Linked DNA regions of Homo sapiens. The protein of the gene in region 4 purifies or fractionates together with the protein of the main gene of each other region. This does not show direct contact. Each region holds a gene or a part of one and is shown on either strand. Other genes may lie near its edges.

Region 1 (4,620 bases), about 68 Mb from region 4:
TTTGCGCGTCGCCTGAGCGTGGCCCGTGTCTCCCTAGAGGGTGGCCCCGCGCCCCCGTCACGTCGGAACATAAGGACCTGAATTGGCCTCCAGACGGCCCCTCCCATGTGGCTCCCCAGGGTGGGGCCCAGGCCTTGGGTGCTGCGGAGACCTCCCTCCGTAAGGTTGAGAAAGTCTGGTCTCCGGATAAGGGACCGTTAGGGCCTCTGTTCAGATCCCTGCCTCAACCAAAGCAGGCTGCCAGCTGGTGGTAGTGGGTTCCTGAATGTGCTTTTAGCTTTGGCTGTGTAGGGAGCCAGGGACTTCTCCAGTCACAGAGAAGGGCGTTTACTCCCGCATTTTCATGGGGTCCTCAGTGGGATCCGTGACCCACAGAGATTCAGAAGGGCCTTTCTGGGATACAACAGGGTCTGGCCAAGCCTGAGGGGTAGGGACGGGGCTACTCCCGCAGCGCTAGTTGCAGATGGTCACGGGAGCACTGGCCACCCTGAGCTCCCACCAAGCTTTCCCAGGAGGAGGACACCCTGGGGCCACCTTTCATCTGGCTGCAGAGGACACAGGAGTGTCAGGCTGGATTTGGGGAGCGTGTGCACCCTGGGCAGCCCCCTGAGGCTCTCCTTCCACCCGCCCTCCCGCCCACAGTGCCTCCTGATGACTAGATTCTGGAGTCAGAATTTGGGTGACCACACCCTGGTCGGTTTTGCTCACGTGCTTCGGGTCGGTTGGATTCAGTTCCTCCATGTGGGGCCGTGGGATGTCACCACCCTTTGCCACTGTCCTTGCAGGCCGGGCGCCCAGGCGTGTGGACCCGAGCCCAGCCTTGCGTCTTTCCTCCCAGTTGGTACCAGGGGCCTCTTGCCTCCACTCATGCAGAGTGGACCAGCCGCCTCTGAAGCAGCCCCGGGGAGAGGAGTGCCAGGCACACAGACTCAGGAAGCTGGGGGTGTCAGGGCACCAGGAGCCTCTCAAGCGGTCCTGTTGGCCGTCTTTCTGAAGGGCAGCTGGGGTTGCATCATTTCCCCAAGTGGATCCTGCCAACTTTCTGGGGCTTCTGGATGAGAGCCCTCTCCCCACCCCACCCACCCCTCCCCGCATTGTGGCATCAGTGCTGCTGCTTCCAGGGAGCCTTCCTGGCCATCCAAGCCTCCTCTCCAGGTTCCTGCCCTGCTGTAGTCCCCAGGCCAGTGCTTGGCAGGTGCTCAGGGAATGTATCCACCAACCAAGGTTTGGGGTGGCTGTCTCTGCCTGACCACTTTCCCCAGGCCCCTGGCGGGTACCTGAGCTGTGCTCTCAGGGCCTCAGGAACCTCCTTCCATATTCAGGGCCTGTGCCTGGGGAGGCTTCAGGGTGTAGCAGCTGTGCCCATCCCAGGCTGACCCACCCAGCTTGCCTGGTAGCCCAGCCTCTGGGCTAGTGTGCCGTGGGGCAGGGGATGTGCTGTAGCCTGGTGCAGAGTCCCCAACCCCAGAAGGGGGCCATGGAAGCTGACACCCCAAGTGGCCGCCCCCCTGCTCTGTCTTGCTTCGGACACTGTGGCCGGGTCCAGGATCCTGGCATCCTGGGAGGTCTCTGGCTTTGTGGGCAGCCTGCCTGGCCCGCACAGTCTGCCTGTCCTGAGGGTGAGACACAGGTCAAGCCCACAGACCCCCTTGCTCCCCTGCTGGGGCCTCCAGGCTCACAGACCACCCCACCCTACCCTGTCCTTGCCCAAGCAAATGAGAGGCAGGGGCTTCCCGGGCTGCTGCTGTCCCGCCCTCTGTGGGGCAGGAGGAGGTGCCCACAGAGGCTGGGTGGTGATAGCCAGGAGATGGGCTGGCATCTGCATTACCCAAGCTCTGCTGCCCATGGTGGCCTTTCTGGGGGTGGGTGCTGGTCCCTGCCCCCTGCCCCACCCCTGATGTCTGCTCCAGAGACAAAGGTGGGGAGGGTGCTGAAGAGGAAGTGTTTGCCCAGGGAGAGGCTGCGGCTCCTCCTGAAACATCAGCCCTGTGGGTCCTGTTTGCAGAATCTCCGGCCTGTGAAACTGTGAGGGGATTCGGCCAAGACGTCCTCTTCCCTCTGCCTCCCACCCAGGCCACTCTTCACCTCCACCATGAGCCTGGACATCCAGAGCCTGGACATCCAGTGTGAGGAGCTGAGCGACGCTAGATGGGCCGAGCTCCTCCCTCTGCTCCAGCAGTGCCAAGTGGTCAGGTACGCTTGCTCTCGGGGTGGCCTTGGGGTGCTGGTGGGGCAGGCTGGCGGGTGGCGGCTCCCTCTGAAGGGTGCATTGCTCTGGAACGCCTTGTTTGTGGACATGAAGTATGAATTCTGTGCAGCTACCACGTGCATGAGATGTGATTCTTGTGTTTCTTTTTGACAATTTAGGAATGTAAAACCCATTCCAGGCTCATGCAGCATGGGCTGAGGTGGGCGGGCCGAGGTGGGCGGCCACTGGCCAGTGGGTCTCTGGCTCCGGTGTCTCAGCTCCTCTCCCTCCCTTGGAGACACGAGGGCAGGACACAGCTTGGGTCCCCTCCGTGAGCCTCCATGGGGCGCTGCTTGTCCCTGCCAAGCTGGGGGCTGGGAGTCCTCGGCCCTCGAGGTCCTCACAAACCCAGCAGCTTCACAAGCAGGACACGAGTGCCTGGGTGGGCCGCATCTTTTCTCTTTTTACCTGGTGATTTCAAGTAGTGTCAGGTTTGCGGAGGAGTTACGAGGACCGGACGGGGCTCCCTGGTGAGGTGGTCCTGTGTACCTGCGGACGCTAGCTCTGGCCCAGCACCTCCAGGCAGGGTCTGCTTTTCCGCCCTGCCCTTTTCGTCTTCCTCACTGGTCCAGGATTGCGTGGCCCTCAGCCCTCTGTCTCCTTAGCCCTCTCCCGTCTGTGACTGTCCCCTCGTCTCTCTGGGTTCTTGGTGGTCTGAGGGTCTGGCCAGGCTCCTGCAGGACGTCCTCTGTTGGGGCTTGTCTGGTGGTTTCTTGTGGTTGAAGTCCTACAGTTTTGGCAGGAATGCAGGGAGATGCCGTGGGGCCTGCCAGGAGCGTCCTGTCACAGGCGCCGTCTGCCACCCTCTCCACTGTGACGCCACTGCCTTTCCTCCTGTGACTGATCAGTGCCTTCGAGAGATACTTTAAATTCTTTTTATTTTTAGAGACAGGGCATTGCTCTGTCACCCAGGCTGGAGTGGCTCCCTCATGGCTTATGCGGCCTCAACCTCCTGGGCTCAAGTGATCCTCCTGCCTCAGCCTCCCGAGTAGCTGGGATTATGGGCATGCGCCACCACGCCCGGCTACTTTTGTATTTTTAGTAAAGACGGGGTTTCTCCATGTTGGTCAGGTTGGTCTTGAACTCCCGACCTCAGGTGATCTGCCTGCCTCGGCCTCCCAAAGTGCTGGGATTACAGGCGTGAGCCACCGCGCCTGGCCACGTGCGAGCATCTTAAACAAAACTTTCATGGAACAGTTCCTCCTTTTTGTTTCATTTCTGAAATGTCTTGTGTGACTTGCCTTGCTGTCTTCTGGGCCCACTGATAGGTTGTAACCTGCACGTGGGGTGGTGGTGGAGGCTGAGGCCAGTGCTGTCTGCGTGGTCCACATGACCCTGGGGTCTGCTCACAGGCTGGACGACTGTGGCCTCACGGAAGCACGGTGCAAGGACATCAGCTCTGCACTTCGAGTCAACCCTGCACTGGCAGAGCTCAACCTGCGCAGCAACGAGCTGGGCGATGTCGGCGTGCATTGCGTGCTCCAGGGCCTGCAGACCCCCTCCTGCAAGATCCAGAAGCTGAGGTGAGGCGGGGCCTGGCACTGCCTCTGGCCTGGTGCAGTCTGCTTTGGTAGCCCGGCAGCAGGGGACAGAGCCGCCAGGGGCGCGTGGGCAGCTGCAGGTGGACAGGCAGTGGCAGCAGACATTTCCAACATCAGCCAGAGGCACACAGGCCTGGCGGTCTCACAGCGGGGGGGACAGGGCCCTTCCTGCCTTATCCCAGCCCCCGCACCCAAGATCTGGCCCTGCCCGCCATCCCTAGCCTTCCAGCATCACCACAGACCCCCACTGAAAGGTGTGTCTGCAGACAAGGTTTCCCTGGGTCGAGCCACATGCGTGCCCTCCTTCACTCGGCCTGGAGACCCCAGACCCCAGAGCCCCGTCCAGGGAAGGAGCAGGTATAGACCTGCCGCCTGAAGAGTGCTGCTCCGGGCTCTGGGCTCTGGCAGGCGAAGGGCGTGGCAGCTTGGCTCAGGGGAGCCCTGCTGACAGCCAGGTATGCTCCAGCCTCCAGAACTGCTGCCTGACGGGGGCCGGCTGCGGGGTCCTGTCCAGCACACTACGCACCCTGCCCACCCTGCAGGAGCTGCACCTCAGCGACAACCTCTTGGGGGATGCGGGCCTGCAGCTGCTCTGCGAAGGACTCCTGGACCCCCAGTGCCGCCTGGAAAAGCTGCAGTGAGTTTGTGTCCTGCCCCAGGGCCCATGCTGGCCGCTGCCTGTCCCCCAGCCAGCCCCCTACATAGAACATCGCCTGCCAGGAGCCGTGAGGAGGGGACTCAGGTCACAGGGGCCTTGTGGTGCTCTCCTTTCCCCATGATGCTGGGTCTGGGGCCTTGTGGTGCTCTCCTCTCCCCATGATGCTGGGGCTG
Region 2 (6,262 bases), on a different chromosome or scaffold from region 4:
ATGCCACCCTTAACCTGGAACAAATTATGGCTGTTTTAGACAGATTATTCTGGATTTCTTCAGTGAAAAATTTATCAGTTTTCAGTGTGCATATTTTAAGCTGGGTTTTTTATTTTTTTACTTTTTGAGACAGGGTCTCACTCTGTCACCTAAGCAGAAGTACAGTGGCAAGACCACGGCTCACTGCAGCCTCAACTTTCTGGACTCAAGGAATCCTCACACCTCAGCCTCCTGAGCAGCTGGGACTATAGGTGCATGCCACCACACTGGCTAATTTTTTATAACAATTTTTTTTTTTTTTTTGAGACAGAGTCTCCCTCTGCCACCCAGGCTGGAGTGCAGTGGCACGATCTTGGTCCACTGGAACCTCTGCCTTCTGGATTCAAGCAGTTCTTCTGCCTCAGCCTCCCAAGTAGCTGGGATTACAGGTGCATACCAGCACGCCCGGCTAATTTTTTTATTTTTGGTAGAGACGGGGTTTCACCGTGTTGTCCAGGCTGATCTTGAACTCCTGACCTCATGATCCACCCACCTCGGCTTCCCAAAGTGCTGGGATTACAGGCGTGAGCCACCGCACCCGGCTTTTTATAATAATTTTTTATAGAGATGGGGTCTTGCTATGTTGCCCAGGGTGATCTTGAGCTCCTAGCCTCAAGTGTTCCTCCCAAAGTGCTGGGATTATAGGCATGAGCCAGTGCCTGGCTTAAGTTGGGTTTTAAGTGACTTTTTTTTTTTTGAGACAGTCTTGCTCTGTTGCGCAGGCTGGAGTACCGTGGCATGATCTCTGCTCACTGCAGCCTCTACCTACCAGGCTCAAGTGATTCTCTTCCCTCAGCCTCCTTAGTAGCTGGGATTGTCCTGAGTAGCTGGGATGATAGGCATGCGCCACCACGCCTGGCTAATTTTTGTATTTTCAGTAGAGATGGGGTCTCGCCATGTTGGCCAGGCTGGTCTCAAATTCCTGGCCTCAAGTGACCCACCCGCCTCAGTCTCCCAAAGTGTAGGGATTACAGGCATGAGCCACCATACCTGGCCATAAGTTACATTTTAATGGAATCTGAGCAATAGTCTCTGACCTTAAGGTCTTTTTTAGCCTACTGTTTCTGGGATTCTTCTTCCACGTCTCTCCTTGTTCCCAGGTGATAGGGAAGATATATTTATAAATAAAGGGTAGGAAGGTATCTGTAGTATTGTCTGATTAATAACTGGCTGTTACTGTGTTGGACTGCAGCTAAACTGAGGCTTCCTAAAGAATGGTACATTCATATACCTTTAGTTTATACTTCTTAAGGAACACTAGAAAGTGACTTCACTACATATTTTTTTCCCCAATCCCCAAAGTCCCATATAATAAATGTATGTGCTTTTTTCCTGTTGTTACGTACAAAACAAACAGAGAAAACACAACAATTCTTTCTTTCCAAATGAGAATCTCTTTGGTTTCTTATTAGCCATGTGACTCTCTTGGCTCTCCTTTGCCATGACCATTTGGATCTTTTGGAGTATATAACTTTCTGTGCTTTTCTACTCTTAAAGGAAACTGGTGGTGACAAAAGAGAAAGAGAAGAAAGTGGGGCTGTATACGATCTATGTGAATCCTGCCAATACCCACCAGTTTGCAGTGGGTGGACGAGATCAGTTTGTAAGGTGAGTTTGTGGCTCTTTTGTGTCTTTGACAGTTTGTAAGACTGATGCATTGTATACTACCAGGTGCTCCTTTATGGAGAGTTACGAATTTTATAGGAATCCATTAACTATTATCTTGAATTTTTTACCGTTTTCCAAAAATCTTACACGCCTTTGGAGATGTTCTGTTCTCTAATGTAACAGTCTCTGAGGGGTGACTTTACATATTTTAGAGATTATCAAGTTTTAAAGAAGTTAGATGATGGTCAGGTGTAGTGGCTCACACCTGTAATCTCGACACTTTGGGAGGTGAGGCGGGTGGATCACCTAAGGACAGGAGTTTGGGACCAGCCTGGCCAACATGGCAAAACTCTGTCTCTAAAAAAAAAAATACAAAAATTAGCCAGGCATGGTGGTACATGCGTGTAGTCCCAGCTGCTCAAGAGGCTGAGGCAGGAGGATCACTTGAGCTCAGGAGTCAGAGGTTGCAATGAGCCAAGATTGTGCCACTGCACTCCAGCCTGAATGACAGAGCGAGACTCTGTCTCAAAAAAGAAAAGAAAAGAAGTTAGATGAATTGACCAAGGTCCTCACGTGGCAGCTAAGCCATAAATTTAGGTTTACCAGCAAGTACTATATTAGTAAATAATCTACCTTTTTCGTATGTAAATAAACGTGCACTAGAAATTTTAAATACTGGTTTTCAATTCAGAAATAGTTTGACTTGGGAGCACTTAGTGTGAACTGAGGGTTTTTTGGCTCTCACTGTCCTGAGCTACCACTTTTTTTTATCCATAGTGATATCTTTGTTACCGTGAACACCTTTTGTTAACACTGGCTCTTGAGACATGACCTAAGGAAAACAGACACTGTGGATTCAGTCTCCATATGTATTAGTTAATTTCCTCTGACCCTTAGTAATAAGCTGTATCCATCCCTATCCAGTTGGCCTATTTTAACTATGTTTCTTTGGGCTCATCAGTTTGAAAGGAGAGAGAGGGGCAAGATCACTAGAAAAATGAGTGACTTTTTGCTTTCCTAATGGTAAGTGAAAAGCATCATCTTCCTTTTGAAATGAGAGCACATTTTATAGCTATATTTCCAGATTCATTTTATTAATAAGAATCATGGGGAATAGGGTAAATTTTTAGAAAATACATGAGATGACTTTGCCTTGTTCAAGAATCCTGGACAAAACCTTGTTTCTCTCTTCTTCCCCTATTCCCATGCCTTCAAAATTCGTTTCCTCTAGTCACCAACAGTCCTTAAATGTGTAGCCATAGATTTTTTTTTTTAGACAGAGTTTTACTCTTATTACCCATGCTGGAGTGCAGTGACACAATCTTGGCTCACTGCAACCTCCGCTTCCCGGGTTCAAGCGATTCTCCTGCCTCAGCCTCCCGAGTAGCTGGGATTACAGGTGCACGCCACCACGCCTGGCTAATTTTTTGTATTTTCAGTAGAACCGAGGTCTCACCGTGTTAGCCAGGCTAGTCTCGAACTCCTGACCTCAGGTGATCTGCCCGCCTTGGCCTCCCAAAGTGCTGGGATTGCAGGCATGAGCCACTGTGCCTGGCCAATTTTTTTTATTTTTAAATAAGAAGCTGTTGATCAAAAAGGGTTGTAGTTTGTATAGATTTTCAGTTGCTACCTCCTCCAAGTTGAGCATTCACTGAAATTTTGAGTTGAGAGTTCCTACTTAGAGCTCCAGATTACTTGAAAAGTCTGTGTCTCTAACAAATTCCACCACTAGGACCAAGATGTTTGGAGGGGAATGTAGTAGTTTGCTGTATTGAGAACTGTATTCATATGTATGTATGTATTCATATGTATTCATATGATATGTATATCATATTGCCTTAACCCAAAGCTGATACTTTCCCAGGGTTAGAGTAAGGCTTAGAGTTTTAGCATTTCAACACAAGGAGAAATACTCAAATCTTCTGTGTCTTATCAGCCTCAATATTCCTCTATTGGCTATTTACTGGGCAGAAGTTATGTGAAGATTTTTGTTTTTTTTTTGAGACAGAGTCTCACTTTGTTGCCCAGGCTGGAGTGTAGTGGCTCGATCTCGGCTCACTGCAACCTCTGCCTCCTGGGTTCAAGTGATTCTCATGCCTCAGCCTCCCAAGTAGCTGGGATTACAGGCATGTGCCACTTTGCCTGGCTATTTTTGTATTTTTAGTAGAGATACGGTTTTGCCATGTTGGCCAGGCTGGTCTCGAACTGTCTTCAAGTGATCCACCCACCTCGGCCTCTCAAAGTGCTGGGATTACAGTCGTGAGCCACCGCGCCTGGCTATGTGAAGATTTTGAGGCACGCTGATCCTACACAAGCAGGTAGCCCTTTCAGCACTCCAGCTCTTCTCTGACATTAGGTTACACTCAACTTCTCTGGCACCTCTCCTGTGCAGCCAACTGAATGTTTTGAGGTTTCTCCTTTCTTATTCTTCCTTTGAAAGAACCCAAACAGCTCATCTTCTGGTATAAATTTGAAAACATTTTTGCTGAATATTATATATCATAACATCATTAACTTTCACTCCTAGCCTAAAGGAATTACTTCAAGGGAATATAGAGAAATAGCTTACTGATCCTCAAGGCTTTTGCATCATTAATACTGAATTTTAGTTTAGGGTTATTAAAAAGTATTTAAGGGAAGCTCTGGGGAGACATGCTTTTTGGCCTGTGGCCAAAAAAAAAAAAAAGGTAAGTAGAGGAGGTATAGGTGTGAGTCCCTACTACACCTGCTAAGCTAAGCTAATTCCTGCTTAGCTTAGTTTTAAGAATTTATAGGGGTAAAGAAAAAGAGAATATATCAGGTGAATCCTTTAGTGGTAAATTTGGCTGACATGAAAATTTATTGCTAAAGGATTAAGTATAGGCCCTGATTGATGAAGCACAGTCAGTAAATCATCTCTTCATTCCCCAGTTCTTAAGCCAACATCAGCAACACTGAGAGAACATTAGATTAAAGGCAGGTATAGAAGAGAGACTTAGGGTAACAAGTTAGTGGGTGCCTGAAGGCATGTGGGAAGAGATGTGGTAAAGGTGTGCACACTATTCCTTACGTGACTTAAAATGTCAAGGGGCTTGGTGTGGTGGCTCATGACTATAAAACTAGAGCACTTTGGAAGGCCAAAGCTGGAGGATAGCTTGAGGTCAGAAGTTCAAGGCCAACTTGGGCAATATAGCAAGACTGTGTCTCTACCAAAAAAAAAAAAAATTAAGAAAAAATTTTAATTTTTTAATTAATTAAATATCTCCAGGTGTGGTGGTATGCTCCTGTAGTCCCAACTACTTGGGAGGCAGAGGAGGATCTCTTGAGCCCAGGAGTTTGAGGCTACAGTGAGCTGTGATTACACCACTGCACTCCATCCTGGATGACAGAGTGAGACCCTGTCTCAAAAAAAATAACTAAAAGTAAAATATAAACTATCAAGGGCCTATCATATGTTCAGAAAGTGGTAGGAAAGTTTGTATTAATCTTTCTATGCTTACTGTCTATCACAGGGCTTGACAAACTGTAGTGCTTGTTTTTATAAATAAAGTTTTATTGGAACACAGCCATGGCCTTACTTTACATGTTGTTTATGACCACTTTCATGCTACAATGGCAGAATTCAATAGTTTTAATAGAGATTAGATGGTTTGCCAGTTTACCAGCTTAAAACATTTACTGTCTTGTCCTTTAAGAAAAAGTTTGCCAAACTCCGTTCTAGCATCATATGTAGAATATAGTAAGCTATTAATAAACACTTAGTTGGGGTGTAGTGGCTTATACCTGTAATCCCAGCACTTTGGGAGGCTGAGGCAGGAGAATCTTTTGAGGCCAGGAGTTTGAGACCAAGCTGGGCAGATGCTGTCTCCACCAAAAAATAAAAATATTAGCTCAGCATGGTGGTGTGTGCCTGTAGTCCCAGCTACGCGGCAGGTTGAGGCGGGAGGATCGTGTGAGCTGGGGATGTCAAGGCTTAAGTCATCAGTAACCTAACTGCCAAAGCAAACAAAGTACTTTTCAAGTCTTTTTCTCTACTCTTGACATTATTACTCCTTCCCTGAAGCACCTTCTCTCCTTGATGTCCAACCACTCCTCAGTGTTGTTCATGGGTGTGTCTTCCTTTCTCCACCCATTAAATGCTGATGTTCTCCAGTAGCTCAGTCTTCAGCTCTCATCTTACTCTATACCAGGGAATTTTAACTTGAAGTACAAATATTATGTGAACCTCCAGAAAGTATGCTTATGTGCATTTTTCTGGGGAGAAGGGACTAGAGTTTTCATTATATTCTGAAACAGGCCAGAGATTCTAAAGGGCGAAGGGAAAATCTTCTCTGTATTTTCCCTTGGAGATCTAATTCCATTACCAATGCTTTAACTACCACCTTTCACACGGATATATGACTTACATCTGTGTCTGCAGACCACACTTATTCTGAACTCTAGACTTACACCTACTTAACAAATGGATATAATTAACTGATGACTTCAGCCAGAGAAGTCTCAGTGGTGAGTTGAGAACCAAAACCAGATTAGGATGGACTGAGAAGTGAATAGGAAGTAAGAAAGTGGAAATATTGAATGTTGATTGTTCTTTTCAGTAGTGTAACTGTAAGGGGAAGGAGAAAAAAAGCAATAG
Region 3 (6,262 bases), on a different chromosome or scaffold from region 4:
AGGGCTGGAGCAGAAAGGGTCTTCTGCCTCAACGTGTTCTGCTGATAAACTTTGAGAATTCCTGCCTAGGGAGTCTGACCTAGATTTTGGCTCCAAAAGCCAGGGCTTCTTATCTCTGTCCCCCGCAGAGACCAGAACCTGGATGGGACAGGGCTCAGAGGTTGGGCACAGCCTTTGCTCCAAGGCTCCTGGGCACAGTGCCCACCTCCCATCCCCTGGTGAGCGTTGCCAGCAAGGCTATTATGAGGAAATCTTTCCTCCTCTTCCTTCCGAAGTCTCCCACGGGCCTATTAGCTCTGCAAGAGTGCAGGGGAAGGCTGCACAGCACTGCAGATGGAGGGGAAGGTGGCAGGGGCAGCAGGTGGCAGGGGCTCCCAGGGAACCTGTGGTCAGAGGGGTGGGGGTGATTCAGAGCAGGCTAAGAGTGGGAAGTGGACTGAAGACAGAAGGGCTGGAGGCACCATCACCCCATCCATTACACCCCAGACAGCTTGACTTTTGCCTAGCAACCCTTGGCTTCCAGGTGATGAGCAATAATGGTAGACACTGGGGTGCTCAGAAACCAATACCTCTAAGAGATGGCACTTTGAAATGCTAAACTGAAGAAGCCTCAAGATCTCTCTGACCTCCCCTTTCCTTCTGTCTCTCGATCCACTCTCCCCCAAAGCACAGGAGGAAGCTATTCTCTGAAGTTCCCTCACCTGCCTAAAGTCTGGACCTGCCAAAGATGAAAACAATGACGTCTGGTCCTTTCCATGAGTTATTATGAACTGAACTCATATTGCAGGAAGAAAGACAAGTCTGTCAACATGGCTAGACAGACTTGTCACAAACCACTGTCTGCTCTGCAGGCCCAACAGACTTTATCCCAGACCATTTATGTTCTTTAAGCCCAATGAATTCCCCTAAAAATCATTTACGACATCCCTAAAATCATCCGCACCTCCCCATCTCCCTTCCCCTAAGAGGAAGGGAATATAACCCTCTGTATCCCAATGCGTGGTAGGGAAATCTCTTGTGATTCTCCCCTGTCCACATTCATACATTTGTATGCCATTTCTTGTATTAGTCTTCCTTTTGCCAGTTGATTTTCAGCGGACCTTCAGAGGGTGGAGGGAGGTTTTCCTTTGGCCCCTACGTGGACGAGGGCTGCATTACGTTGTACACAGGAGCAGTGGGTTCCCTTGGGCACTGTGGGAGCCTCCCTTCAGCAAGAGCAGATGGGGTGAGGCTAGGGAAGGCAGCCTGGACTTACGTCGATGGAGCAGCCAAGGAGAGAGCCTTTTTGCAGAGCTTTCTGGATGATCTTGAACAGGTTGGGAGGGGGCTTCTTCAACTCATACCACTCAGCAATGCCTCCGGTGAAGTCTTCGAAGCCCTCAGTGGTGGCACCCCCTGATAGCGCTTCATAGCATCCGTTGATCCTACAAGAGGGGATTAGACGCTGCCGCTACCCTTGACACTACTGATGCTATAATCTCTCAAACAGCCACCCCCTAGTACCGTCTAGATTTGATGCTCCAGGGACCCCCTGCTCACATTCTCCTTGGCCTTGTTCCCAGCTCGGGGTGCTCAGGAAGGCAAGGTATAATGTCCACAGTTACCATTTCCCTGGTATTTTGTGTTTTAAAGAAAATCTCAGGCCGGGCGCGGTAGCTCATGCCTGTAATCCCAGCACTCTGGGAGGCCGAGGTGGGCGGATCACTTGAGGTCAGGAGTTCAAGACCAGCCTGGCCAACATGGCAAAACACCATCTCTACTAAAAATACAAAAAAATTAGCTGGGCATGGTGGTGCATGCCTGTAGTCCCAGCTACTTGGGAGGCTGAGGCAAAAGAATTGCTGAAACTCAGAACGTGGAAATTGCAGTGAGCTGAGATCATGCCGCTCACTCCAGCCTGGGTGACAGAATGAGGCTCCGTATTAAAAAAAAAAAAAAAAAAAAAGATTCTCGTAGAACCTTAGAGTCGGAAGGACCTTAGTGATTTTCTGGATGAACCTCCTGTATTGATTCCTTCTACATCCTGACAAGAAAGGGGAGGTCTACTAATGGGTCGTTTGGCATTGATAGCTTAAAAAAGGACAACCATTCAATAATGGAAGCAGTTTCTCTGAGAAACAGGCACGGTGTTGGCAAGGGCTTAGTGCTCCTGACTGCTGATGCTGGAGTCCGGTGGCTTCCCTGACCCCAGTATTGAGCAGTGGGACTTAGAAGCATCCGTCAGGCTCCAGGTTCTCACAGCTGACTCCTCCTTCCTGGATTGGGACTGTAAGAAACAGAAATCCACTTGCTGCTCTAAAGTGGGGTCACTTTAATGGAAGGAGCCGGGCGGCACAGCCAACATGGGGCCATTGTGGAGAGGGGCTGGTGTGGGGCTTCTTACTGAGAGTGGGCAGCCCTGAGCACTGGACAAACTCAACTGTGGGCAACCTGGGTGGGAAGCAGCTGTGCGGAGATGGGGAAGCCATTGCTAATCAGTGACATCATCTATTCTGGGCAAGTTTCCTACCTCTGCAATGAATAGTTCTGCCCATTGGCAAAAATTCTGCTTTTTTAAGTTGATACAAATGTGTCCTGTCAAGGAAGTAGAGCTCCTTCTCAAGTCCAGCACAATCAGTACCATAACTTGTTCCTGTGCATTTGGTTAAAGATGGTGATAGACATCATTTATCAGCGTACAGTGCAGCCAGGCACCCTGCATGCACTATCTCCTTGCATTTAGAGCCTAATTTTGGCCAAAGAAGTCCTTCTATAGAAAAGGACTTCCCACTCAAAGTAGTCCTGGAGTAGTTCTACTGATTTTTATATTTTTAGTAGAGACGGGGTTTCATCATGTTGGCCAGGCTGGTCTCGAACTCCTGACCTCAAATGATCCACCCACCTCGGCCTCCCAAAGTGCTGAGATTACAGGCATGAGTGAATTTTTTGGAATCCAGGGCATTGGGGGAAGGCCATGGGGCCAGGGGAGGATGGCAACTTACTTGGCGTATGCCTTCTCCAGCAGGGCGCTCCAGAACTCGCTCCCTTCGGCTGAATGCACAAAGAGCAGCTCCCCGTCCTTGGTGGGCAGCCTGTCATCCACCACCACCTCCACCCACTCGCCGTATTGCCAGAACTGCAGAACAAGAGAGGTGGGCTGCAGGAGGAGCTGGTGGCAGCACTGGGACTCTGAGCCTCAGCTGCCTCTGGCTCCCCTTGCCCTGATCCCCTGGGATAGGTTCCATGAGCGCATCCTGGGAGGAGGTGCTCCCTTAACTCTCCTATGCAGGCCAAGTCCTCACTAAAAAAGCGAAGACAGAGGCGCATGTCCATCCTTTCAAATCCACACCCGCCTCTTTAGCATTCTGCCCTGTACCTTAGGCTGTTTTTTTTTTTTTTTGAGACCAAGTCTTGCTCTGCCCAGGCTGGAGTGCAGTGGCACGATCTCGGCTCACTGCAACCTCTGCCTCCTGGATGCAAGTGATTCTCTTGCCTCAGCCTCCCGAGTAGCTGGGATTAAGGGCACGTGCCACCACACCCGGCTAATTTTTTTTGTGTTTTTAGTAGAGACGGAGTTTCAGCATGTTGCCCCAGCTGGTCTCGAACTCCTGGGCTCAAGTGATCCACCCACCTTGGCCTCCCAACCTCTGCCTCCCAGGTTAAAGTGATTCTCCTGCCTCAGCCTCCCAAGTAGCTGGGATTACAGGCCTGCACTACTACGCCCAACTGATTTTTGTACTTTTAGTAGAGATGGGGTTTCATCATGTTGGCCAGGCTGGTCTCGAACTCCTGACCTCAAATGATCTGCCCACCTCGGCCTCCCAAAGTGCTGAGATTACGGGCATGAGCTACCGTGCCCAGCCAGCTTTTTCAAGTATTATTTCTCATTTACCGGCATAAAAGGAGGAGAACTTCAACGTTTTTGTCTCAAACATCAAATAATACAGTTTTTTTTTTTAAACTTGGGAATTAGTTCCTGAACACCTTGCTCTACCTCCCTTTTACATGTCCCAAGAAACCACCCAGGGCCATCCCAGCCGGGTCTCACATCCTGGCCACGGGTAAGCCAGGAAGCTTCCTGCTCTCGCCCAATGTCCTTTGTAGAACAGTATTGGTCTTGGGAGTCTGCAAACACCAGGGACTGATGAACCCAGCCAAGCCAGAAGACTGTTCCTAGCCCCCTGGACCTGTTGAGGAACCACCTGAGCCAACCATTAAGTTACCTGGAAGTGAAAGATCCCTGCATAGTTTTCCTGGAAGCTCTGGTTTAGGGGGACGACTCGAGCCAGGATTTCTTCATTCAAGGTGAGGGAGGCAATGGCTGCCAGCAGCCAGCAGTCACCTGTGAACACAGCACAAGGAGCTCTTATCAGAGGGTCTTAGAACCAGGAGGATGTTAAAAATCTTGTCTCCACCTCCAGGGGCTTAAAGCCTAAGACAACCTGTGAATAGACAGAGTGAAGTTTCAGGCAGTCCCCCATATGAGGGTTGGGTCAGAGGGTTTGGGGGCTATTAGGTTGGTGTAAAAGTAATTGTGATTTTTGCACCAACCTAGTATTTTGAGGGAAATGCAAAGGGAGAAATGTTTTTGCTGTGTTGTGGTTGGGCAGAGATGGGAAATTTCATTCCCTGAAAGACCCAGAACTCTGGTGGCTGAACTGTGCCCTCAGAGCCCAGCCTTGCACCTGATTCGCAGCAGATGCTCCACAGTGAGAGAATGAAACCAGCGCAGCTGCAGAGGCTTCTGAGCACACAGGCTTTGAATGGGAGTTTGGGCTGGGTGTGGTGGCGTACACCTGGAGTCCCAGCTATAATACGAATACTTGGGAGGCTGCGGCAGGAGGATCCCTTGAGCCCAGGATTTCAAGGCTGCAGTGAGCCATGATTGCACCACTGCACTCCAGCCTGGGCAACAGAGGGAGACCCTCATCTCTAAATAAATAAACAAACAAATATATAAAGGGGAGTTTGAGTGAGAGAAAGAAAACGTAGTGCTAGATGGGAAGGGGACAAACGTTGCACGCCTCCTAGGAGGAAGGTCAGAGCCAGGAAAAGAGGCTCTGGCAGGGAGTACAGTCGCAGGAAGTAAGTACGGAGCAGTGCAGATGGAAAAGCCCTGAGTCAGAGGCAGAAGGCTGGACTGTCCCGAAGGGTTTCTGTGCGGAGGGGCAGAGGTCACTTCAAGGGGTAGACAAGGATGGGCACAACGAGGTGGGCAGCTGGCCAGGCAGCCTGGTCCCTCTCTGAGCCTCAGAACCCTCCCCCATGACATGGATAAGTGTGAGGCATAATGAGAGCAGGTGTGTAAGCACTCGGCACCCATTTGGTGCCAGTGCTAGGTTCTCAGCACAGCAGGCACCACAATCATTTCATGCAGTTAGAAGCAAGCTGATGCCAGCAACAGCACCCAGATGGTTTGCAGGGAGGGGTCATCTTCACCACAAAACACAAACAAAGGGGAGGGGGCCTGGGAAGAGGATGAGGAAGTTTACTCCATTCTTAAGGAATGTGCACTTTCCTACAATTTCCCATGACAATAATGGGAAGTAGCCTCAAAGGAGTTTAATTCACTGTTGGATTTATTTTCGCCAATTGACAGGTTTATTAAAAATGTTACTGAAGACTAGGCGCAGCGGCTCACGCCTGTAATCCCAACACTTTGGGAGGCCAAGGTCAGTGGGTTGTTTGAGCACAGGAGCTCGACACTGGCCTCGGCAACATGGTAAAACTTTGTCTCGACAAAAAAATACAAAAATTTGCCAGGTGTGGTGGTAGACACCTGTAGTCCCAGCTACTTGGGAGGCTGAGGTGGGAGGACTATTTGAGCTCAGGAGGTGGAGGCTGCAGTGAGATGTGATCATGCCACTGCACTCAGCCTGGGTGACAGAAGAGCAAGACCCTGTCTCAAAAAAAAAAAAAAAAATATATATATATATATATATACACACATATATATAAAATATGTAATATATGTAATATTGTTATATATATCAGTAACATATATATATGTTATTGAAGTTCACTGAATTCTTTGGTTTTGTTTTGTTTTTTGAGACAGTCTCGCTCTTGTCACCCAGGCTGGAGTGCAATGGTGTCATCTTGGCTCACTGCAACCTCTGCCTCCTGGGTTCAAGTGATTCTCCTGCCTCAGCCTCCCAAGTAGATGGGATTATAGGCACCTGCCACCATGCTTGGCTAATTTTTTGTATTTTCAGTAGAGACAGGGTTTCCCCATGTTGGCCAGGCTGATCTTTAACTCCTGACCTCAGGTGATCGCCTGCCT
Region 4 (6,262 bases):
GGTTATCTGTTTCCCACCATTTCATATTTCATATTTCATATTGCTCGACAGGTCATGCCTTAGCTGAGAGCTGCTTTGTTGTCTTATCTGTCCTTCATGTGCAAATAACCATGTAGTGTAGGATTGCAGCAAGAATGGTTTCCATTGGATTTCTTGGAGATGGTATCTTGACACAATCAATTGTGATGGCTACAAGTAGTTGAGTATGGATATTTGGATGCTTTCCCAATTCTACAGCTCTTTATTTTCATGGTGGTTCTCTGACACCATATGTCGACAGACTAGTAAGACGTTCTGAATTGTTTAAAGGACTTGCATTTATCTGTCTGTAAAGGCTTGTATACCAATTGATTGAAAATGGAAAATAGGGCCCTGTTCATTTCTTCAGTATTATCTCTAGGATATGTTTGAACTTTCAGATGGTTCAGCTAATAGTTGTGAGAATTCAGGATTACTGAATTAAAAAAAAAATGACTAGAGTGTGTAGCTAGTAAGTTCCTGGTAGTATCAGTATGCATTAATACACCTGAAGTCTTCCAGTGATCCTGTCCAGTAAACAGTATTATACCTGTTCAGGACCTCATGTCTTTCCTCTTCCTGATTCTGGTACTTTACTTTATTATTGCTACCTAGCTGACCCTGGTCAACTCTTTGAATCCAGCTTGATTAAGATCTTCTGCTTAGACTTCCCCTCATTCTTCCTTCCTTTTGATTCTTACCTGCTTATAATGTGCTTTTCTTAAACCTTTCCCATGTACATTTTGCACCCTAGTTATAATTTCTATACTTTTAGGTGCTATAGCAATGCAGTTTTTAGCATATTAACATGCATTTGCATATTGATCACTTGCTTAACTGTTTGATGCATATATATGTCTTTTAGTCCCAATTAAATTTTCCATTCAAGAACAGTGGCCATGTCTTCTCTTGTATTTTTCACCATAGCACTTCATATGCCACTGTATACACAACACAGCACCTAATAATCCTTGATGAAATACTGTGGCTTGAAATCTTACTGAAATACTATGAATACATATATGATAGCTTCTCTAGGAAAAAAAATTCTGCTGAATGCTTCCTTTGCTGGAGTTTGTGCTAGATCTTACCTCAATTTTAGCATATTCAGGTTTATGAAATGTACAATTTTAAATGTCAGAGTAAGACACATAAAGATTTTTTTCTCCTGAACCACTAATATTTTTTCTTAATGTATTTTATTTGAATGGCAATCGGTGATTCCTTTTTTCTGTTGGACGTTTTGTTTTGTTTTTTTGATACAGAGTCTTGCTCTGTCACCAGGCTGAAGTGCAGTGACGCGATCTTGGCTCACTCCAACTTCAACTCTCGAGTTCAAGCAATTCCCCTGCCTCAGCCTCCTGAGTACCTAGGACTACAGGCGTGTACCACTACGTGGGCCTGGCTAATTTTTTGCATTTTAGAGACGGGGTTTCACCAGGTTGGCCAGGATGGTCTCGATCTCCTGACCTCGTGATCCATCCGCCTCGACCTCCCAAAGTGCTGGGATTATAGGTGAGAGCCACCATACCGGGCCATAATCCGGTTAGAATTAGCTTTATGAAAATAAAATAAAACTTTTTTTTAAAATAAAAACTTTATTTGGGAGAATTAGCTTTATGAAATTGACATGAAAAGAAAATTTGAAATTAAGATGCTAGTAACTTTATAGTACACGTTTTACTGAAAACACAGCTTTAGAATGAGGGGTTCACAAATTTGTCTTGCTTGGGCCATGACTGCATCATGCATAAATACAGACCTAATGGGATAATATTCTGAAGACATCAGTGTGGCTGATTCTACAATGGAAGCCTTTTCAATTCTACCCCTGCAGGCCAGGCGCAGTGGCTCACACCTATAATCCCAGCACTTTGGGAGGCCAAGGTGGGCAGACCACTTGAGGTTAGGAGTTCAAGACCAGCCTGGCCAACATGGTCTCTACTAAAAATACAAAAATTAGCTGGGCATGGTGGCGCACGCCTGTCATCCCAGCTACATGGGAGGCTGAGGCAAGAGAATCACTTGAACCCGGGAGGCAGAGGTTGCAGTGAGCCAAGATCACACCACTGCACTCCAGCCTGGGCCACAGAGTGAGACTCCATCTCAAAAAAAAAAAAAAAAAACAACTCTACCCCATCAGTTTTCCTACATTACCAGTATAGCAATTTCACCACTAGAGTTAACACTGCTTGTACTCGTTTTGTTCTCTGAATGCAGTCATCAAAGATGACTTTGACATGGGTGGTTAGAACATCAAGGTGTGTTTCGAAGCCTGTTGGAATACTTAGTTTGGGGTTTTTTCTGACTGTGTACATAAAGAATGTTTTTGTGTATGGCATGGTTTTGTTTACATCATCATACTTCTGAAATTCATTGCCTGGCACTCTTCCAGCTTGATTTTGCATGTTTTAAAAAGATTCTTGTCATTCTAACTCTAAATTAGGTGTGCTGTATTCTAGAGCTTTGATTTTGTGTCTCCCAAAGTTGACGACTAGTGTAAGTCTGAATCAGACAGCTTTTGTTTGAATCGTCTGCTCACCTCACAGTTAATGAGATAACAGTGAAATAAAAATAATTAAAATAACAGATTGAAAAAAGAGAAGTTACTGAGATAACAGTGAAATAAAAATATTAAAATAACAGATTGAAAAAAGAGAACTTGCGTATCCAGGTGATCAGTATTACTTGAATAGTAGTAATCAAGACTATTGATTGTTGTTCTCTTCTCTTAGATCTTTGCTCTGATAACCATGGCTGTTTTTAGGGTATTAGCTCTTTCTCAAGATCTGTTAAGATGGATCAGTGGCGCAAGGATTGTGGCAGATAACCCATTCATTCTTTTGATTTCTTTCAGATTTAGGCCTATTAAAGGAAGGCAGGAAGAACTAAAGGAAGTAATTGAACGTTTTAAGAAAGATGAACACTTGGAGAAAGCCTTCAAATGTTTGACTTCAGGCGAATGGGCACGGCACTATTTTCTCAACAAGAATAAAATGCAGGAGAAATTATTCAAAGAACATGTAAGTTTATTAAGACTGATGCTGTTAACCTATTTGGATAAGAATAGTGAAGTAAATTAAAACCCTAAATGTTAGTTAATACTGAAATTTTAAATTTATTTTTCATAAAACTAATCAGTCTGAAGATCTTGTAACACATACAGTCATTTGGATGACAGTCCAGAGAAAAAACTGGGCCAGGCTCAGTGGCTCATGCTTGTAATCCCAGCACTTTGTGGGGGCTAAGATGGGAGTATTGCTTGAGGCCAGGACTTCGAGACCAGCCTGGGCAACATAGCAAGACTCCATCTCTAAAAAAATAAGAATAAAAAAATTAGCTAGGCATAGTAGTGTGTACCTTTGTAGTTTGTAGTTCCGGCTACTCAGGAAGCAGAGCCAGAAGCATTGCTTGTGCCCAAGAGTTAGAGGCTGCTCTGAGCTATGATCATGCCACTGCGCTCCAGCCCTGGGAGACAGAGCAAGACCCTGTCTCTAAAACCAAAAAAGGAGAGAAAACTTTGTCATATAGAGGTGAAATTCATTATGAGCCTTAAGGGAAACAAGCCATTAGGTACTCATACAGAGTGAGTACCCTTAACCCCAAAATTTGAAATGCTCCAAAATCTGAAACTTTTTGAACACCGACCTGACACTCAAAGGAAATGCTCATGGGAGGATTTTGAATTTTTTGTTTAGAGGTGTTCAGCTAGTTACTGTAATGCAAATATTGCAAAATGAGAAAAATTGTGACATTCAAAACTCTTGAGTAACAATAAAGTTTGTTACCTAATGATCTTACTTTTTTTGTTTATTTTATTGTTTTTTTAGAGGCAGAATCTTGCTCTGTCACCCAGGCTGGAGTGCAGTGGCCTGATTATGGCTCACTGCAGCTTCCATCTCTTGGGCTCAAGTGATTCTTCCTCTCAGCCTCCCACGTAGCTGGCACTAAAGGTACATGCCATCATGCTTGGCTAATGTTTTTCGTAGAGACAGGGTCTCGCTATGTTGCTCAGGCTAGATCTTACATTTTTTTCATCATTGCGGGTGGTTTGCTTTTATAATTGTAAGAAAGTCTAGCAGGGTATACCATTTAAAGTCATTATCAATTTTTTTTTCCTGTTTTAGGTATTTATTTATTTGCGAATGTTTGCAACTGACAGTGGATTTGAAATATTGCCATGTAATAGATACTCATCAGAACAAAATGGAGCCAAAATAGTTGCAACAAAAGAGTGGTAACTATTCTACTAGTATAAGCCTTTAATTTAATTTAAAGTTCTCTTCTAAATTATTGTTGAAGTGCTGAGAAATTCATGGTAAGGAATGAAGCCAGAGTTTACCCTGAAGTAGCCAATGCATCGCCGTTGCCTTGGCCCATCAGCTGGAGTCAGAGTGGGGAAATCGGAAGTCTCAGTTGAACCAGATCCCATCTCTAGGCCAAATTGCTTTTCATTTTCCTTTATTGACTCTGGATGCCTGTTCAGTGATATGATTGCTGAAGAGTTGTGGATACCGTGATTAGATAACCTGGCTTCCACAGTCAGTCTTCTACTGGCCTAGAAGAAAGGTTGGGGCTAAAGTTTTAATGATCCTAGTTTTATGGGTGGAAACCTCCCTAAAGCATTAGTTGCTTAAAAATACATACATACAGATATATATATATGTATATATGCCAGCTTCAATAAAAATAGTAGAGTTGGTGGGGGGCATTGGCTCACGCCTATAATCCCAGCACTTTGGGAGGCCGAGGCAGGCAGATCACTTGAGGTCAGGAGTTCAAGACCAGCCTGGCCAACATGGTGAAACCCCATCTCTACTAAAAATACAAAAATTAGCTGGGCGTGGTAGCACACACCTGTAGTCCTAGCTACTCGGGTGGCTGAGGCAGGAGAATCACTTGAACCCAGGAGACAGAGGCTATAGTGAGCTGAGATCGCGCCACTGCACTCCAGCCTGGGCAATAGAGTGAGACTCTATCTCAAAATTAAGTCAGAGTTGAGCCCAGCTAAAAGGGATAAAAGTTACAGATGAAAGAGAATATACTACTGTATCTTCTTTCCTATCATGCCTGTTCCCTATGTTATCTCCCAGGAAAAACATGTAGCTCCTCATGTACCCACCCTCTGATATTTCTACCACAAAAATTTGGGGGGTCAGATATCTGAAAATGGATAGGTAAAAGAACTTTATTGCCAGGCCTCTGGGGTGAGTGTGTGTACATGAAATGTGCTTCATTTACCTCAGGATGTATTGAGCCTGCTAGTTGGATTATGTGGCTCCCTGTGTTGCAGATGGGTGTGTAGGTTTGAGATCTAGAGTCCTAGAGCTGTACCGTCCGGTACAGTAGCCACCAGCCCTTGAGTCCTTGAAATGTAGCTAGTCTGAATTGAGAAGCGCTGTAAGTGTGCTATACACACCAGATTTCATATTAAATTTTATTCCCATTCATAGTTCTTATATTACCTACTGAAATCGTATTTTGGATATTGGGTTAAAATATATTGTTGGCTGGGCATGGTGGCTCATCTGTAATCCCAGCACTTTGGGAGGCTGAGGTGGGCGGATCATGACGTCAAGAAATCGAGACCATCCTGGCCAACACGGTGAAACTCCATCTCTAGTAAAAATACAAAAAAAAAAAATGAGCTAGGTGTGGTGGCACACACCTGTAGTCCCAGCTACTTAGGCTGAGGCAGGAGAATCACTTGAACTCAGGAGGCAGAGGTTGCAGTGAGCTGAGATCACGCCACTGCACTCCAGCCTGGGCAACAGAGCGAGATTCCGTCTCAAATAAAATAAAATAAAATAAATTGTTAAAGTAATTTCACCTATATTCACTTAACTTTCTCAATGTGGCTGCTAAAAAATTTAAGATTGAAAATTTGGCTTGCATTATATTCCTAGCAGATGGTGTGCTCTAAAGAGTGGCACCATGATTCCGGATCCTCATAACCCTTACTGCCACTGGTCCCTGCCTGCTTCATCCAGCAGTCAGAAAGTTTAATTCATTGCCGCAAGTATTTGAGTACTTTCTGCTTGCAAAACACCACACCAGGGCATTCAGAGACATAGGTGGCATAGTCCCTGTCCTGGTTGAGTTTCCATTCTCTTGCAGGAATAAGATAGGTACACAAGTAACCATGGCACAAGGCTGTGGAGCTCCAGGGTAGGAGAGAAGATAGCCAGGTGGGGATCCCAGTGAGCTAACTAAAGTATAGACAGCTAGGCCTTTTCAGTTTCTG
Region 5 (6,262 bases), on a different chromosome or scaffold from region 4:
CATAGATTTTTAAAGCAAAAAAATTTTAAAAAGAAAACATTTGGCCAGGTGCGGTGGCTCACGCCTGTAATCCCTGCACTTTGGGAGGCTGAGGCGGGCAGATCACTTGAGGTCAGGAGTTCGAGACCAGCCTGGCCAACATGGCAAAACCTCCTCTCTACTAAAAATACAAAAATTAGCCGGGCGTGGTGGCGGACACCTGTAATCCCTCAGCTACTGGGGAGGCTGAGGCAGGAGAATTGCTTAAACCCGGGAGGTGGAGGTGGAGGTTGCAGTGAGCCAAGATTTCGCCACTGCACTCCAGCTTGGGTGACAGAGCAAGACTCCATCTCAAAAAATAAAATAAAAAAAAAATAAAAAATAAAAGAAACATTTATGGGACAGTCATGAAAAATGTGAACACTGACCAGATATTTGATAAGTTAAAGGAGGATGGCATTGTCATTATCTTTACAAGTTCTTGTCTTTTAGACATACCTTACTGAAATATTTATAGATAAAACATCATGTCTGGGATTTGCTTAAAATAATCAGGGTGACATATAGAAGAAGAAAAATTGGTCACAAACTGATATTTGTTGGAGCTGGGTAATGGAATGAATACCTGGAATTCACTGTACTTAGTCTACTTTTATATGTTTGAAATTTTCCATTAAGAAGTTTTAGGCTGGGCGTGGTGGCTCATGCCTGTAATCCTAGCACTTTGGGAGGCCAAAGCAGGCAGATTGCCTGAGCTGAGGAGTTCAAGACCAGCCTGGGCAACATGGTGAAACCTTGTCTCTACTAAAATGTAAAAAATTAGCTGGGTGTGGTGGCGTGTGCCTGTAATCCCAGCTACTCAGGAGACTGAGACAGGAGAATGGCTTGAACCCGGGAGGTGGAGGTTGCAGTGAAGCAAGATTGAGCCATTGCACTCCAGTCTGGGCAACAGAGCAAGACTCCATCTCAAAAATAAATAAATAAATAAATAAATAAAAAGTTTTAAACTTTTTATTTAAACTTTTTATTCCTGGAACATCTGAAATCTCTAATTTAAACTTTATTACCCAGAAATGATATCATCTCAGAAATGAGAGACTCTCACATTCAAATCTCTAGCCTTAGCATATTGTCCCATGTCATGCACTTGTTCTCTTGAACTTAAAGTGACTTTCAGCTCAGATCCCTCCATTTTCTCCCAATCTCTCAATTCCCTCTGCCACTCTAAGTCACAACAATCAACTGTCCATATGAACTGCAATTGACTTTTCTGGATATGCAGGCTGATGAGTACTGCTGGGAGTGGAAGTAAAACTGTAGATGGATTTGCTACAAAGTCACAGACCACAACAGGCATAATCTTTTCATTTATCAATCTTTTATCTGACCTTACTCAGCTTTTCATACTATTCTTCTTAGAAATTGCCCAAAAGCACTCATCATTTCTCCTCAGCTCCCTCTACTCAACCTCACAAACTACCACCTAGTACTCTGAAAAGAGCAACATAGCTTTGGATGTATTTGTACTTAATGTTTCTTTACAGATAATTTGTTATATTAAAACAGTTCTAACTGTAAAAGAAAATTCATTAACAAAGAGATTTTAGCAAAACCTTTCTAGAAAACAGCAAAGTTACATTTTAAAACTTACTGTTCACAGCAATCCATTCATTGAGATCCTCTCCCTCAGGCAACATAACAGCTTGTCTCAGATTCCCACTTCCTAGAGTTGCTTCTGCATGTTTTAAGAGTTCATACTGATGAGATCCTTCAGGGATATTCTTCTTTGGTTTGAATGTTTTAGAAGAGCGGCTGCTGCTGTAAGATTAAAAGTGCAAGTATATGAATTTTTAAGACTGGAAGTAGAACAGGTAGAACAACATAATTTTAGGTATATAAAGTAGCCTGTAAAAATAAAATAAAAAATACTCTCTGGGCCAGGCATGGTGGCTCATGCCTGTAATCCCAGCACTTTGGGATCACCTGAGGTCAGGAGTTCAAGACCAGCCTGACCAACATGGTGAAACCACACGTCTACTAAAAATACAAAAATTAGCCAAGCATGATGGCGCACACCTGTAGTCCCAGCTACTTGGGAGGCTGAGGCAGAAGAATGGCTTGAACCTGGGAGGCAGAGGTTGCAGTAAGCTGAAATCGCATCACTGCACTCCAGCCCAGGTGACAGAGCAAGACTCAGTCTCAAAAAAAACAAAAACACTCTCTGAAAAATGCCAAGATAGGAAGATGATGATCACAATACAAGAATGCTTTTTTTCCCCTGCCTGTAAAAGCAAGATTAGCAGCACAATTCCACAAATAAGGCAATTTTACTATGCCCTCTGAAGAAGTCTGGTACAGAGAAACATCCTGGATTTTAGTTCTTGATCTGACACTAACTGTGTCTTCTTGAGAAACTGAACCTTCTTTTGGCCTCAATTTCGGTTTTTTTTTTTTTTTTTTTTTTGAGATGTAGTCTTACTCTGTCACCCAGGCTGGAATGTAGTGGCACAATCTCGGCTCACTGCAATCTCCACCTCCTGGGTTCAAGCGATTCTCCTGCCTCAGCCTCTCGAGTAGCTGGGATTATAGGCATGCACCACCACACCCAGCTAATTTTTTTTTTTTTTAGTAGAGATGGGATTTTGCCATGTTTGCCAGGCTGGTGTCGAACTCCTGACCTCAAGTGATACACCCGCCTCAGCCTCCCAAAGTGCTATAGAAAATGATGGGGCCATGCCGGGCGCGGTGGCTCACGCCTGTAATCCCAGCACTTTGGGAGGCCGAGACGGGTGGATCACGAGGTCAGGAGATCGAGACCATCCTGGCTAACACGGTGAAACCCCGTCTCTACTAAAAATACAAAAATTAGCCGGGCGTGGTGGAGGGCGCCTGTAGTCCCAGCTACACGGGAGGCTGAGGCAGGAGAATGGGGTGAACCCGGGAGGCGGAGCTTGCAGTGAGTCGAGATCGCACCACTGCACTCCAGCCTGGGCGACAGAGCGAAACTCCGTCTCAAAAAAAAAAAAAAAAAAAAAGAAAATGATGGGGCCATGGCTAGGTGCGGTGGCTCACACCTGTAATCCCAGCACTTTGGGAGGCCGAGGCAGTGGATCACGAGGTCAAGAGATTGAGACTATCCTGCCCAACATGGTGAAACCCCGTCTCCACTAAAAAACAAGTACAAAAATTAGCTGGGCGTGGTGGCACACGCCTGTAGTCCCAGCTACTCGGGAAGCTGAGGCAGGAGAATGGCTTGAACCCAGGAGGCGGAGGTTGCAGTGAGCCAAGCTTGCACCACTGCACTCCAGCTTGGCAACAGAGTGAGACTCCGTCTCAAAAAAAAAAAAAAAAGAAAAGAAAAGAAAAAAGAAAATGGTGGAGCCAAGTGCAGTCGCTCACACCTCTAATCCCAGCCATTTGAGAGACCAAGGCAGGAGGATTTCTTGAGCCCAGGAGTTTGAGACCAGCCAGGACAACATAGTAAGGCGGAATGGGGGGTGGGGAAGATAAAAAGAAAATGGCGCAGGGAGGTTTAGTTCAAAAATCCAGTATTCTATATCAAAATATTTGAGACGCCTTGAAAGCAAACCACAGTAAAAGAAACACTAACATCTTTAAGTTTATAATAGGGAAAATAAATGAGACAGGCACAACTCGTTATTGAGGAAAAAATGTTTTTATTCCTATCTCACACCATCCATAAAGTCTTCCTGCACAAAACTCAGAAACCTCAAAGAAAAAGTGGACAGATTTCAAATAGTATCAATTAAAACTTTCATAACAGAGCAAAAAGACAAGTAACCAAATAAAAGTACTTGTAACATATATTACAAAGGATGAACTGGATAATAGAGGGCTTCTGTAACTCGTTAAGAATATAAGGAATCCTTTAGAAAAATAGGCTAAGGAGATGAATAGGCAATTCAGAAGTATGACAATCAATGAGCATGAGAAAAACTGTTCAATTAAAGTAAGATTTATTTTTTCCCTAATCTGAATGTCAAAAGTTTAAATGATTACATTAAATGTGGACTAGGGTAGGGGCCCCCAACCCCAAGGACACAGACTGGAGCCCACAGAAGGAGATGAGCAGTGAGCAAGCAGCAAAGCTTCATCTGTATTTACAGCTGCTCCCCATTGCTGGCATTACCACCTGAGCTCCACCTCTTGTCATATCAGCAGAGGCATTAGGTTCTCACAGGAGCGTGAACACTACTGTGAACTGTGCATGCAAGGGATCTAAATTGCATGTGCCTTATGAGAATCTAAAGCCTGATGATCTGTCACTCTCTCCCATTACCCCCAGATGGGATTGTCTAGTTGCTCAGAGCTCCCACTGATTATACATTATGATGAGTGGTAGAATTATTTCATTATATATTCCAATGTCATAATAGAAATAAAGTGCACAATCAATGTAATGCATTTGAATCATCCAGAAACCATCTCCCCAACCAGATCTGTGGAAAAATTGTCTTCCACAAAACTGGTCCCTGGTGCCAAAAAGGTTAGGGACCACTGGACTAGGGTACAGAGAAACTAGTATTTTAATACACTACTGGTGAAAGTATAAAGTGTAACATTTTGGGAGGGCAATATGGTAGTATCTATTAATACTGAAAAGCTCCTCAAGCCATCCATTCTACTTCTAAATATCTCCTCTAGATATGGATAAGAATTTTTTTCCAAGATTGTTTTTAATAGGGAGAAACCTAGAAGCAATCCTCAAGTTTATCAGTAGAGGATTGAATTAAAGTATGGTACATCCATATCATGGAATATTGTATAGAAGTTAAGAAAACCAGACAGAGTACACGTATTCACAGGGAAAGATCTAATACATGGTTAAACATAATACACAACCAAACGTACAGCAGGAGCCCATTTTGTAAATACATAGAAAATATCAAAAACTAAACTCATCAAAACTGGTGATTACTTCTAGGAAGAGGAATGGAATAGAACTATGGACTTTTACTTTACCTGAGTAATTTGGAATTTAAATAAGACTGATTAAGAAGTAAAAAAGAGCCGGGTGCAGTGGCTCACACCTGTAATCCCAGCACTCTGGGAGGGCAAGGCGGGTGGATCACTTGAGGTCAGGAGTTTGAGACCACCCTGACCAACATAGTGAAACCCCGCCTCTACTACACACACACACACACACACACACACACACACACACACACAAACTAGCCGGGCGTGGTGGCAAGTGCCTGTAATCCCAGCTACTTGGGAGGCTGAGGCAGGAGAATTGCTTGAACCCGGGATGCAGAGGTTGCAGTGAGCTGAGATCGCACCACTGCACTCCAGCCTAGGCAACAGAGTGAGACCCTGTCTCAAAAAAAAAAAAAAAAAAAAAAAGGAGGTAAAAAAGAATGATGAAAACACTAAAAATCATATCTGAAAAGTTTTTAACATGATAAAAAAAACTATATTGAACAAGGAAGAAAATATTTGCAAATCATAGATGTGATAAAGACTTGTATCTAGAATGTATAAAGAAGTCCTACAACTCAAAAAGACAGCCCAATTTAAAAACAGGCAAGGCCGGGCGCAGTGGCTCACGCGTGTAATCCCTGCACTTTGGGAGGCCGAGGTGGGCGGATCACTAGGTCAGGATATTGAGACCATCTTGGCTAACACGGTGAAACCCCGTCTCTACTAAAAACACAAAATATTAGCCAGGCATGGTGGCAGGCGCCTGTAGTCCCAGCTACTTGGGAGACTGAGGCAGGAGAATGGCGTGAACCCGGGAGGCGGAGCTTACAGTGAGCCGAGATTGAGCCACTGCACTCCAGCCTGGGCGACAGAGCAAGACTCTGTCTCAAAAAAAAAAAAAAAGAAAATTAACAAGTGCTATGAGAGGTGTGGGGAAATTGGACCCCTCATAGAGTACTTATGGGAATGTAAAATGGTGCAGCACTTTGAAGTTTGGCAGTTCCTCAAAAGGTTAAACATAGTTACCACTTAAGCCAGCAATTCTGCTCCTAAGTATATACCCAAGAGATATGAACACATACATCCACGCAAAAACCTGTCACATATGTTCACAGCAGCATTATTCATAATGGCCAAAAAGCGGGAACAACTCAAGTGTCCATCAAGAAGGCCAAGTTTTAAAAAAAGAAAGTCTCGGCCGAGTGCGGGAGTGGATCATCTGAGGTCAGGAGTTCGAGACCAGCCTGGCCAACATGATGAAACCCAGTCTCCACTAAAAATACAAAAATGAGCCAGGTGTGGTGGCCGGCGCCTGTAATCCCAGCTACTCGGGAGTGTGAGG

Evidence for each region.
Region 1: the proteins of KMT5B (region 4) and RNH1 purify together in Homo sapiens (affinity purification with mass spectrometry, with the first as the bait; one large-scale study listed by BioGRID). This does not show direct contact.
Region 2: the proteins of KMT5B (region 4) and DCAF8 purify together in Homo sapiens (affinity purification with mass spectrometry, with the first as the bait; one large-scale study listed by BioGRID). This does not show direct contact.
Region 3: the proteins of KMT5B (region 4) and CAPN2 purify together in Homo sapiens (affinity purification with mass spectrometry, with the first as the bait; one large-scale study listed by BioGRID). This does not show direct contact.
Region 5: the proteins of KMT5B (region 4) and MOB1A purify together in Homo sapiens (affinity purification with mass spectrometry; one large-scale study listed by BioGRID and IntAct). This does not show direct contact.

The regions. Positions count from the first base shown.
Region 1 is NC_000011.10:499,635-504,254, reverse strand, and holds part of RNH1 (ribonuclease inhibitor), read left to right. Parts: intron 1-2,005; 5' UTR 2,006-2,092; coding exon 2,093-2,193; intron 2,194-3,600; coding exon 3,601-3,771; intron 3,772-4,255; coding exon 4,256-4,426; intron 4,427-4,620. UniProt on the Homo sapiens protein: Ribonuclease inhibitor which inhibits RNASE1, RNASE2 and angiogenin (ANG). May play a role in redox homeostasis. Required to inhibit the cytotoxic tRNA ribonuclease activity of ANG in the cytoplasm in absence of stress.
Region 2 is NC_000001.11:160,226,682-160,232,943, reverse strand, and holds part of DCAF8 (DDB1- and CUL4-associated factor 8), read left to right. Parts: intron 1-1,536; coding exon 1,537-1,647; intron 1,648-6,262. UniProt on the Homo sapiens protein: May function as a substrate receptor for CUL4-DDB1 E3 ubiquitin-protein ligase complex.
Region 3 is NC_000001.11:223,742,159-223,748,420, reverse strand, and holds part of CAPN2 (calpain-2 catalytic subunit), read right to left. Parts: intron 4,322-6,262; coding exon 4,203-4,321; intron 3,116-4,202; coding exon 2,982-3,115; intron 1,425-2,981; coding exon 1,256-1,424; intron 1-1,255. UniProt on the Homo sapiens protein: Calcium-regulated non-lysosomal thiol-protease which catalyzes limited proteolysis of substrates involved in cytoskeletal remodeling and signal transduction. Proteolytically cleaves MYOC at 'Arg-226'.
Region 4 is NC_000011.10:68,171,797-68,178,058, reverse strand, and holds part of KMT5B (histone-lysine N-methyltransferase KMT5B), read left to right. Parts: intron 1-2,875; coding exon 2,876-3,041; intron 3,042-4,145; coding exon 4,146-4,255; intron 4,256-6,262. UniProt on the Homo sapiens protein: Histone methyltransferase that specifically methylates monomethylated 'Lys-20' (H4K20me1) and dimethylated 'Lys-20' (H4K20me2) of histone H4 to produce respectively dimethylated 'Lys-20' (H4K20me2) and trimethylated 'Lys-20' (H4K20me3) and thus regulates transcription and maintenance of genome integrity.
Region 5 is NC_000002.12:74,170,956-74,177,217, forward strand, and holds part of MOB1A (MOB kinase activator 1A), read right to left. Parts: intron 1,798-6,262; coding exon 1,631-1,797; intron 1-1,630. UniProt on the Homo sapiens protein: Activator of LATS1/2 in the Hippo signaling pathway which plays a pivotal role in organ size control and tumor suppression by restricting proliferation and promoting apoptosis.